Regions from separate parts of the Homo sapiens genome. Here region 2 is linked to region 1. Evidence: fine-mapped expression QTL. A gene starts in region 1. The other region holds a variant in brackets. All regions are shown on one strand. Distances are between the middles of the regions.

Region 1 (5,383 bases):
CTGGCATGGCAAGTCTCATTCACTTCAGCACAACACTCTGTACATTTCAGTCTGATATTCTACTTTGCCATTTAAGGACACCATTAAAATCATAGAGATTTTCAGTGACATTGGAGTATTGTAATTATTACTTTCAAAAAATTATTTTTAATAGGATGATTAAACCAATGAGAAGAAACACACATAAATGATATTTTGCAGTTTATCTGTATTAAGAAATGCTTCTTGCCAATTTCTAGTTTTAGTTTTTGGATTGCTACATAAGACTTTCTTTCCATTTACTTTATGTGTTTTTAAAAGCTGCAGGTAATTTTTAAGGTTTGATGGAATTATAATGGAAGCCTTGTATAAGTTAAATGAAATTGGTAAAGGAGAGCTTACTTTGTCTATAATGCATTCAGGATTAAAAATTAGATTTCAAAATGAAATGTCTGATTTGTAAAATATTTAATGTTATATCAGACTTACATAAAATTTTCTGTGAGAACTCAAATGCATTTGATTTTTAATGAATGTTCTGAATGAAATATGAATTTTTGTCTTTCAGTCTCTGTAGTTTATCTCAATATATTAATAAAAAGGTCTGTTCTCACTGTAAAATGTTTGTTTTTATCATGTTTTATACTCAATATGGCCACTCTTTCATTCATTCAACTATTCAACAAGTATGTCAATGCTTGCTATATCCCAGGCAGTGAGCTGGGTGCTGGGAATTAATCACTGAATAAGAAAGACAAAAACCTTAAAGAGTTTACATCTAGCAAAGAAAATAAATATCAAGTAAATAATTATAATTATGATAAATTCTACAAAGAAAATTACAGGGTACAATGAAAGCATTTATCTAGAAGACCTAAACTATTCAGTGAGGGTCAGGGAAGGCTTCTCTGAGAGTGAGTTTAAGCCAAAATGCAAAAGATGAGATTAGTAGGATTAAGGTATGCTAGAGAAATATCTCAGGCAGAACGTGCTAAGTTGGTAAAGTGATAAAAATCTTTATGGAAGTGAAAACAAACTTGTATGATCATAGCATAAGGAATCCAGGGTAGGTGAGAGAATTAAGATAGGGGCCAGATCCCCATAAGAATGATATATAAACCATGATGCTGATATTGAACTTTATCCTAAGTCAATAAACTTGATTTTCAAGGAAGGAGTTAAATGATGTGATTTGGGTCTTTAGAACATCATTTTTGTTGCTGTGTGGAGACTGGAGGGCAAAAGAGAATGTAAGAAGAATAGGAGGTTGTTGTCAAAAGAGAGATGATCATGGCTTGGAGTAGGGTAGGAATATAGATAGGTGAATAGTTTTCAAAGATAGGAGGTAGAATCAACAGAACTCTGATTAGATTTGTGACATATGGAAGCAGCAATTGAAAACCAGGCTAAAGTTTTCTGAAAATTTGGCTATGAAAGGGAGTAGAGGAAAAACAGTGTGGTAGCTGAAAGAGGATGCGATTTCTAAAGAAGCTTTTCTTTTGAGGGTCTCGCTCTGTCACACAAGCTGGAGTTCAGTGGGGCGATCACCACTCGATGCAGCCTCAAACCCTGGGCTCAAGGGATCCTCCTGCCTCAGCCTCCCGAGTACCTGGTGCACGCCACGTTCGGATAATTCTTAATTATTATTATTATTTGTAGAGATGGGGTCCTATCTTGCCAGGCTGCTGTGGAACTCCTGGGCTCAAAGGATCGTCCCGCCTCGGACTCCCAAAGTGCTGCGACTACAGGCGTCAGCCACCGCACCCGGAAAGCCTTTTATTTTTTTCAATTATTATTTATTACATGAGACCTTACTAATTTTTAAAAATTCTGATGTAAAAGGGAACATAGAAGGTGCCCGTAATCAGTGTCTGCATGTTAAAAGTAGACGCTTGAAGTGCTCCAGAAAACCCATGGCTCCTCCCCATTCAATCTAGGTAAGGCCTTCAGTAAAGAGCACCCATGGGGAAGTCACAAGAGCCTAGGAAACAGGTCAGAAACCTGTGGACCTGGTACTTCCAATCACAGGCAATCTGGTGCTTGCTCTTCAGCTCATCACACCATCCCCTCAAATTTCTTCATCTACAAGAAAAGGTTTTAAGATAACAGACCCTGCAAAACTAATGACATTTATACACCCTCTCTGCACAAGAATGTCTTGTAACACATAACCTTGCTTGCATTTTCTGGGTTCCTTAGGGTCCAGCGATCTCGTACAAATCTACCCCACAGCTGACTTCCTTCGGCCCGTGACACAAGGCGCAGGCGCAAGACGCGGCCCGCGGTGGGCGGGGGAGGGGCGGGGCGCGTGCGGGGCGGGGGGGAGGGGAGGGGCGCGGCCGCCGGACGCGCCCTCGCAGCTTCCGCCGGGCCCCTCCGGAAATCCCGTATCGTAGGGCGACGGCGGCTTAGAAAGTGCTTCCTGGAGCGCAGACGAGGTCATGAATCATGTGACGGTGGCTTGAGGAGGAACCTGTCTTTAAAGCTGTCCCTGAAGTGACAGCGGAGAGAACCAGGCAGCCCAGAAACCCCAGGTAACTGGCGCTACTTTGCCTGGTTTTGAGGCCTAGTCCCGCAGGTGGCGCGGGTGGTGAGATTAAACAGAAGGAGAGGACCCTCTCTTCTTTTCTTTGGGCCTAGCTCTTTGGGGTGGAGGGGCAGGGATGGGGTGGGCTGAGGTAAGGTGTGCCAGCTGAGTACCTGTGGGGGTGCTGGGGCACTCCGACTCCCACTGGGCTCGCTGGGCCAAGCCCTAGAACCGCGGGGGTTTTACCTGGTTCTGACCAGGGCTGATCTCGCGTATTAAGTTGTGGGTGGGGAGGACGAGGAAGCCAAAGAGGGAAGAGTCACCGGGAGTTTCTCTTCCAGGCGTGGAGATTGATCCTGCGAGAGAAGGGGGTTCATCATGGCGGATGTGAGTGACACCCCTACATAAGAGGAAGGGGAGAGTGGGGAATTTTGAGGGGCATACTGAGCGGGGAGAGGTAGAACTTCCCAAACAGAAATTTGTTTTGATCCTCCCAGCCCCACCCATCCCAGTTAATTATTTTCTCTGATATCTGAAGTGGGAGACTAATATGAATGAATTTGCAGGATCCTGAGTTTCTGCCTCGAATGGGGGTGTAGGACACTAAGGTGCTTGAGACTGAGAAAATTAGGTTCTCCCTACTCCCCAGTCCAGCTGGGGCATAAGAGAGGCTCTGTATATTTACCATTTGAAATTCTGAATGATGGTTTGCTGCTTTTCCTGTCAGAATTTGGTCAGTAGGACATGTACCCACAATACTTTTTTCCAGTAAGTGATAACAATATCTCATTTGGTTTATTGTAGCAATTTACGATGATTTCTAACCCATGCCTCTTTAGAAACATGGTAACGTGTGTGTGTGTGTGTGTAGGAGGATAAAATGATCAGTCGGGTTTGGAGAATAGTAAGTGCTGGATGCTCAAAACAAGAGATACCTGATTAATCCATGTGAGGTCAAAATTGATACCTAAATTGTCAGTGAAATTCCTGGGATAAGAGAGTGTAATGAGACAAAATAAGATAGTCTTCTGGCCAATGCGGTTGCTTAGTCTGTAATCTCAGCACTTTGGGAGGCCGAGATGGAAGGATCACTTGAGGCCGGGAGTTCAAGATCAGCCTGGGCAACATAGCAAGACCCCGTTCTACAAAAAGAAATTTAAAAATCAGCCAGGCGCATTGATACCTCTGTAGTCACAGCTATGCTGGAAGTGAGGCGAGACGATTGCTTGAGCCCAGAAGTTGGAAGTTGCAGTGAGCCCCAGCTTAGAAAAATAAAATAGTCTTCTACTTCTTTAGTCTTAACTGTGTTTCGTGTTAAACACTTGACACACATTGTCATTTATTTTATATTCTGTAACACTGGGCTGGGCGCGGTGGCTCACGTCTGTAATCCCAGCACTTTGGGAGGCCAAGGCGGGTGGATCACCTGAGGTCAGGAGTTCGAGACCAGCCTGGCCAACATGGTAAAACGTTGTCTTTTCTAAAAATACAAAAAATTAGCTGGGCATGGTGGCAGGTGCTTGTAATCCCAGCTACTCGGGAGGTTGAGGCAGGAGAATCGTTTGAACCTGGGAGGCAGAGGTCGCAGTGAGCCGAGATCGCGCCATTGCACTCCAGCCTGGACAACAAGAGCGAAACTCCGTCTCAAAAAAAAAAAAAAATGTTGCCTCACATAGTCATATAGAATTTATTTTAGGTCCTTAAACAAAATATTTTAAAAATTACGTTATAATAATATGCCTTACACTGTTTCATTATTTGTTGAGTAGGTGAGTTCAACAAATAATGAAACAATGGAAGGCATATTTTTATAATGTGATAGTCACGTGAGACAACAGTCTTACAGAGGTCATATCACCTTACCCAAGACCATTAAGATGATGGTGGAAAGTCTATCTTTGAACATGGAAAGGTGTTTATAACGTCTTCTCAAGTGAACACAATAGCAACAGGATGTAAAACACTAGTATGAAAATTATGATGTAATTTTATGGCTAAAATGTGTTTCCCATTTCTAGGTATGCTAATCCATGCATCTTCTCAATAAACTTTTAACAACACTTTTATGATGTAGGTTCTATATTAGCCCTATTCAACAAATAATGAAATAAGCTTAGCGAAAAAAGGTTGGTTAACTTACTCCAAGTTGCGTGACTAGTAAACATCCAAATCAGACAGAGAAAGATAAAACACAGCAAGAAAGGTTATGAATGATAACTGAAGTTCCTTAAAATTTGGATAGGACAGGATCTAGAAAACAGTGGAAGGCCTATTATTACAACATTATTTTTTAATGCTCTCTTTCAGGACCTAAAGCGATTCTTGTATAAAAAGTTACCAAGGTAAGAAATTTTTAATTTGTTATTGAATAAATTCTATATGCCATATGTTAATTTTATGAAGCATTTTGTCTGTATTTTCCATGTTGTGAAGTATCTCTGAGATTTCCTTTAATATGAATATTTTTTGCCAGCCTCACGTCCTCTGGAAAATTTTCGTCACAACCGCTTTCCTCATTTATGTCAATAAGTTTGCCTTCACTGAGTTCTCTGTGTATCTAGAGCGATAGTGTCAGCATTCCCTTGGTCATCTGTTTCTTCTATAATTCTTTACTTTCTATTTGAAATTCAGCATTTCTATTTGAAATTTCAGCATTATTACTTTTCATTTCTTTGCTGTATTTCGTCTTTGTTGGCCAGTTTCCTCTTTTTATTATCTCTTTTTCTAAATGTCACATACTTTATCATTGGGAGACAAGGAGGTACAAAACTACATGCTTTGCTATCTCTGCATGAGCTGCATAACAGATGCACAGTGACCAACCATCAACATACTTTGAAAGAAATGATGTGGCTGGTTACTGATGACAGTGTGCAT
Region 2 (5,383 bases), 45 kb after region 1:
CTTGTCTAGGTACTGGGAATGCAATAGCACACAAAGGAGTTTAAATGCTCTTATCGAGCTTATGTTCTAGGTAGAGGAGACAGAAAAAAAATTTAAAAAATATTTTATGTGTGAGAAGTGTTATGGAAAAAATGAATAGGGCATGGTAAAGGGATAGAGAATAGAAAAGGTAGGGTTGGGAGAGGGTGATATTTTACAAGGGTCATCAGGAAGGGCGTCTTTGAAAAGATTTGAAAGATCTGGAGAGTATAGAACCTGAATTAGAGTAAGAGTGAGAAAATGAAAAAGAAAAATGTCTCCTCTGTGGTTAAAAAACACCCTAATGTTAATGATAAATCTACACAAAACAGGCCGGGCACAGTGGCTCACATCTGTAATCCCAGCACTTTGGAAGGCTGAGGTGGGTGGATCATGAGGTCAGGAGATCGAGAGCATCCTGGCCAACATAGTGAAACCCCATCTCTACTAAAATACAAAATAAAAACAAAAATAAATTAGCCGAGCGTGGTGGCAGGCACCTGTAGTCTCAGCTACTCGGGAGGCTGAGGCAGGGAAATTGCTTGAACCCGGGAGGCGGGGGTTGCGGTGAGCCGAGATCGCACCACTGCACTCCAGCCTGAGTGACAGAGTGAGACTCTGTCTCAAAAAAAAAAAAAAAAAAAAAAAACTACACAAAACAAAACCTGTCTATGATACTTGAATACATACAATGTCTGACTGCAAAAACAGAACTGTGGCTTTTGATACTTGGGCCCAGATAAGGTGCTGCTGTAAAATGAAAAGCTGTTGAGAAAAGCCAGAAGAGGGTGTCTGATCTCGACCTCAGAGAAGAATGAAAGCCTCTGGCCCTTCCTCTTTCTGTCTCTCATTGGCATTGCAGCATTGGGATCACAATGAAAAACAGATTTTGCCATTATCAGAACCGTCCCATTCTTGCACATTGTGCTCTCTTTTGTCAATGTGATCTTCCCATAAGAACAGATCCAGTCATATGAGGAGAAGGGGCCGGCTACAGTTTTACAGTCAGAATGAAAGCAGCAGTACCTATATCAAGAGTAGCTGCTGTGCAGGCTCAGGGGCTCTGTGAACACAGTGCTCACATTGTAGATGCATGGTAAATTCAGCGCTGGCTCCCAACCCTAAGAAACACTCCCAGTGATGTGCTTCATAGTCACTCTGGACCCTTGGAAAGAGCACTGGATGCACAGGCAGAGGAACAGGGTTCAATTGTCACTACCGCCATTCAGTACTTATCGGCCTTGGACAACCATTACAAGCTTCTGCTCCTTACTAGTGAGAATAATTATGCTTCCTTCAGAAGGCACCAAATAAATGTTTGTGGGAGAATGATAACATATTAGATATTATTATTCTTTGACAGAATATTTTTAAATCCTTAAATAAAATTTGAATGATTGCATCTTTGGGGACATGGATTTTGAAATCTTAAAAAAGACCTAGACGCAACATTCTGCTAGGAATAAAAATGGTGGTAGTCTAGTAATCACTACTTGTGATTAACTATAGTTAAATTGGTGCCTCTCAAACACTTTCACCTTACAGAAGAGGAGAGGGGAACTGAAGCCTAGGGATCAAAGCAGCTCCCAAATTAGATACATTTTGAACTCTTATACTTTATCTTCAAAGTTGATGCTTAATTTTCATTCTACTTCATATATTTAATACTTAATATGAAAATAATGCTTTAAATGACACTCCAGAAAGATGTACTTAGTTGATACGACCAGGCACACACTTCACATAATAATACCTGTGTTAATTTTTTTTTTTTGAGGCGGAGTCTTGCTCTGTCACCCAGGCTGGAGTGCAATGTCACGATCTCAGCTCACTGCAACGTCTGCCTCCCAGGTTCAAGCGATTCTCCTGCCTCTGCCTCCCAAGTAGCTGGGAATACAGGCATCCACCACCACACCGGGCCAATTTTCGTATTTTCAGTAGAGACGGGGTTTCGTCATGTTGGCCAGACTGGTCTCGAACTCGTGACCTCAGGTGATCCACCCGCCTCGGCCTCCCAAAGTGTTGGGATTACAGGCGTGAGCCACTGTGCCTGGCCTAATTTTTTATTGCTATTGTAGCAAATTGCCACAAACATAACAGCTTAAAACAACTCAGATTTATCATCTTACAATTCTGGAAGTCAGAAGTTCGAAATGGGTCTCACTAGTCTAAAACTGGCAAGGCTGCTTTCCTAGTGGAGGCTCTAGGGAGGATTCATTCCTTTGCATTTTCCAGCTTTCAGAGGTGCCCTCATGTCTTGACTTGTGGCCATTTTCCTCTGTCTTCAAAGCCAGTAACAGCCAGTCAGATCCTTCTCCTGCTGCCATCTTTCTGGTTCTCTCCCTTCTGGCTCCCTACTACTTATGAGGACCCTGTCAATTACAGTGGTCTTACTTAGACCATCTAGGATAATCTCCCCACCCCAAAGTTATTTGATCAGCTGCCTTAATTCCATCTGCAAACTTAATTCCCTCTTGCCATGTAACAATATATTCACAGGTCCAGGGAGACATGTGGACGTCCTGTGGGGGCATTATCCTCCTACCACAGTATCAGTCCCTGGAGGAGAAATAGCCACCGGGGCCAGTTGCGCTGCAGGGTAAGGATCTCTGGGCTGGGCTGCTGCCTGAGCCTGCAGTGCTGTCACCTCTTGGTATTAGACAGCCACTGCCTTTCCAACGTGTGCATTTCCAACCTCTGTGAGCCTCTTCAGCGCACCTATCAGTCAAATTTATCTTTGTATCCCTACCACTTGATAGAGTTTCTGACATAATGAAGGCAGATGAGTGAATGAATTAATGAATGAATGCTACAGTAATGCAGGCTTGAACCAAGAAAGAACCTGGGATGAACCAGCCTCCCAGGTCCACAATTCTCCAGGCCTGA[G/A]GCAAGAAAGGACAATAACCGCAGGCATAACTTTTCAAATCTCTGTTGGAGGAACCCAAATTCTATTTTGAAAACCTCCTCTAAAGTTTAATTCAACAAAAGTAAAACAAAGGAAAATGGCATTGAGTCAACCAAGAGAGTAAAACTGACTGTAGATTGATTTTAACTAGTAACCCCACAAATGAGGCTAAACTAAATTGTGAGATGAAGATGACAAAGTACTTATAAAACGGCAACTTATACTGATAAAAATCTGGTGTCCTAAAAGACAGTTCTCCTTAGATGACTATTCTTGCCCAAGGAAGAGCCAATATACAGACTTCTTGGCATGGCTGTGAGGCTTAATGATTTCCCCTTCTGCAGAGATTGTACCTCCCAGTATACAGAGATAGGTTCCCTATAACCATGTTATACCTCCAGACCTGGCCCGGCCCTCGAATACCTGACCTGGTCACACTAATTGGATTCACTTCTTGGGGATCCACTTAATTGCTTCTCTAGAGAGAAGGTCCACCAACTCAATTTCTGAACTACATGAAGTAGACTATTGTTTCCTGCCTTTGACATGAAACCTGGTTTCAGAAAGGCTGAGCGGAGGTACACTTCTGAGACGATCAGAGATGAATCAAGACAGACACATCAATTGACTGAAAGCCTCAGACTTGCCATGATTACTAAGCAGATTCCTTGTTGTCTCTTGGTTGTTCAACTTGCCCTTAAATTCTGGGAGGGTATATTGTTAATATCCTTTTAAAAAATTCTGCTCCTGGGCAGGGCGCGGTGGCCCATGCCTGTAATCCCAGCACTTTGGGAGGCCGAGGCATACGGATCACAAGGTCAGGAGATGGAGACCATCCTGGCTAACACGGTGAAACCCCGTCTTTACTAAAAAAAATACAAAAATTAGCCAGGCGTGGTGGCATGCGTCTGTAGTCCCAGCTACTTGGGAGGCTGAAGCAGGAGAATCCCTTTAACCCGGGAGGCGGAGGTTGCAGTGAGCCGAGATCGTGCCACTGCACTCCAGCCTGGGCAACAGAGTGAGACCCCATCACAAAAAAAAAAAAAAATTCTGCTCCTGTTCCCTGTTCTTGTACCCTACTCACTTAAAAACAAAATCAAAAACAAGACCAAAAAAACCCAGCTAGCCAGAGCTGGTTTCTGTCATTTCCAATCAAAAGAAACTTATCAGCCGGGCGCGGTGGCTCATGCCTGTAATCCCAGCACTTTTGGAGGCCGAGGGGGCGGATCATGAGGTCAGGAGATCAAGACCATCCTGGCCAACATGATGAAACCCCGTCTCTACTACAAATACAAAAATTAGCCGGGCATGGTGGCGCATGCCTGTAATCCCAGCTACTCGGGAGGCTGAGACAGGAGAATCGCTTGAACCAGGGAGTCAGAGGTTGCAGTGAGCCGAGATGGCGCCACTGTACTCCAGCCTGGCAACAGAGTGAGACTCTGTCTCAAAACAAACAAACAAACAAACAAACAAACAAACTTATCTACTGTCGCTACCACAGACTCTTAATACTTTGCCTCCAAGGTCCAAGTTAGTGCCTCAGCTCGGGAAGAAAGGGACCCTGGGTTACTGAGATTCAGACCAAATGAACTCCAGGACTCAGCTGGGAGATTTAGAAAAAGGCAACAGGAGGCAGGGGTAGCAGAGCAAGAAGAATGAGGAAGACCAGTAACCACAGGCCTTGGAAACTTGGCTATAAGTTTCACTTCAGTTTCTGAACTACGTAAAGGTGACTATTGTTTCCTGCCTTTGACATGAAACCTGGTTTCAGCCATGCTTAGCGGAGGTATGTTTTTGAGATGATCAGAGCTGGACCAAGGCAGGCATTTCCATTTACTTTGACTGAATGGTAACTTACAGTTATGTGTAAGAGTTACATATATAACTGTATGCAATAATATGAAATTGCATTGAAGGACCCTTTATCTTGTATTCCAGCAGGAACTCAGAAAGAGAGTAAGAACAGTCTCAATTCTTAGGCATTGGTTTGGTATCTGAAATAGAGTGTAGCACAGGGTACACAAAACTCCTAAAGAAAAACTTTTGTTTAGAGTATTTATTTTATGCAGTGAGGTCAGTGCTTATTCATCAGGTACCCCAGCTAGCCTGTAAGGTGTTTGAAGGCAAGAATAATATCTGATTTATCTTTCTATGTTATCAGTGGCTCACAGGGCCATTTCACTCAAAACATTTTGTTGAATTAAATTAAAATCAGATCATGTCCATCCGTGTTTCATTACTGCCCTCAGGTTCAGAAAATAAGCTCTGCAACTGGCATAATGAGTTCCTCTCTCCCCTCCTTCCAATGAGAAGTAGATTTCTTGGGGTTGGTGGGAGAGAATAGGGTTATTCAAGATCTTTTTCCTTCCTTCTTTGCCACCTGCTCTGCAAATGGACTTTAAGCCTTGTTCATTTACATGTGAAGGGGTTTTAATATTTAATTTCCAGTCTCATAGGGTG

Direction of the effects. Alleles are on the strand shown, and positions count from the first base shown. SD is a standard deviation of normalised expression in the study named.
With allele G in place of A in region 2, the expression in esophagus muscle of the gene that starts at base 2,421 in region 1 is higher (small effect, 0.37 SD a copy in GTEx).

Evidence for each region. PIP is the estimated chance that this variant, and not a neighbour inherited with it, causes the effect. A credible set is the group of variants that fine-mapping cannot tell apart.
Region 2: its variant is the best candidate, but not a certain one, in a credible set for the expression of LAMTOR3 in esophagus muscle (GTEx, PIP 0.70).

Annotation. Positions count from the first base shown.
Region 1 is chr4:99,891,465-99,896,847 of GRCh38, reverse strand. It overlaps LAMTOR3 (late endosomal/lysosomal adaptor, MAPK and MTOR activator 3), which reads left to right and starts at 2,421. Exons shown (of 7, transcript NM_021970.4): 1 at 2,421-2,513; 2 at 2,848-2,893; 3 at 4,814-4,848. The coding sequence starts at 2,885. DNAJB14 (DnaJ heat shock protein family (Hsp40) member B14) reads left to right here. Exons shown (of 8, transcript NM_001031723.4): 8 at 1-600. RefSeq lists a silencer at 2,233-2,322.
Region 2 is chr4:99,846,819-99,852,201 of GRCh38, reverse strand. The region is part of intron 3 of DAPP1 (dual adaptor of phosphotyrosine and 3-phosphoinositides 1); the gene reads right to left. Among named protein-coding and RNA genes, the nearest start is that of DAPP1, 33 kb to the right of the region's middle. The variant G/A (reference allele first, on the strand shown) is at 2,905.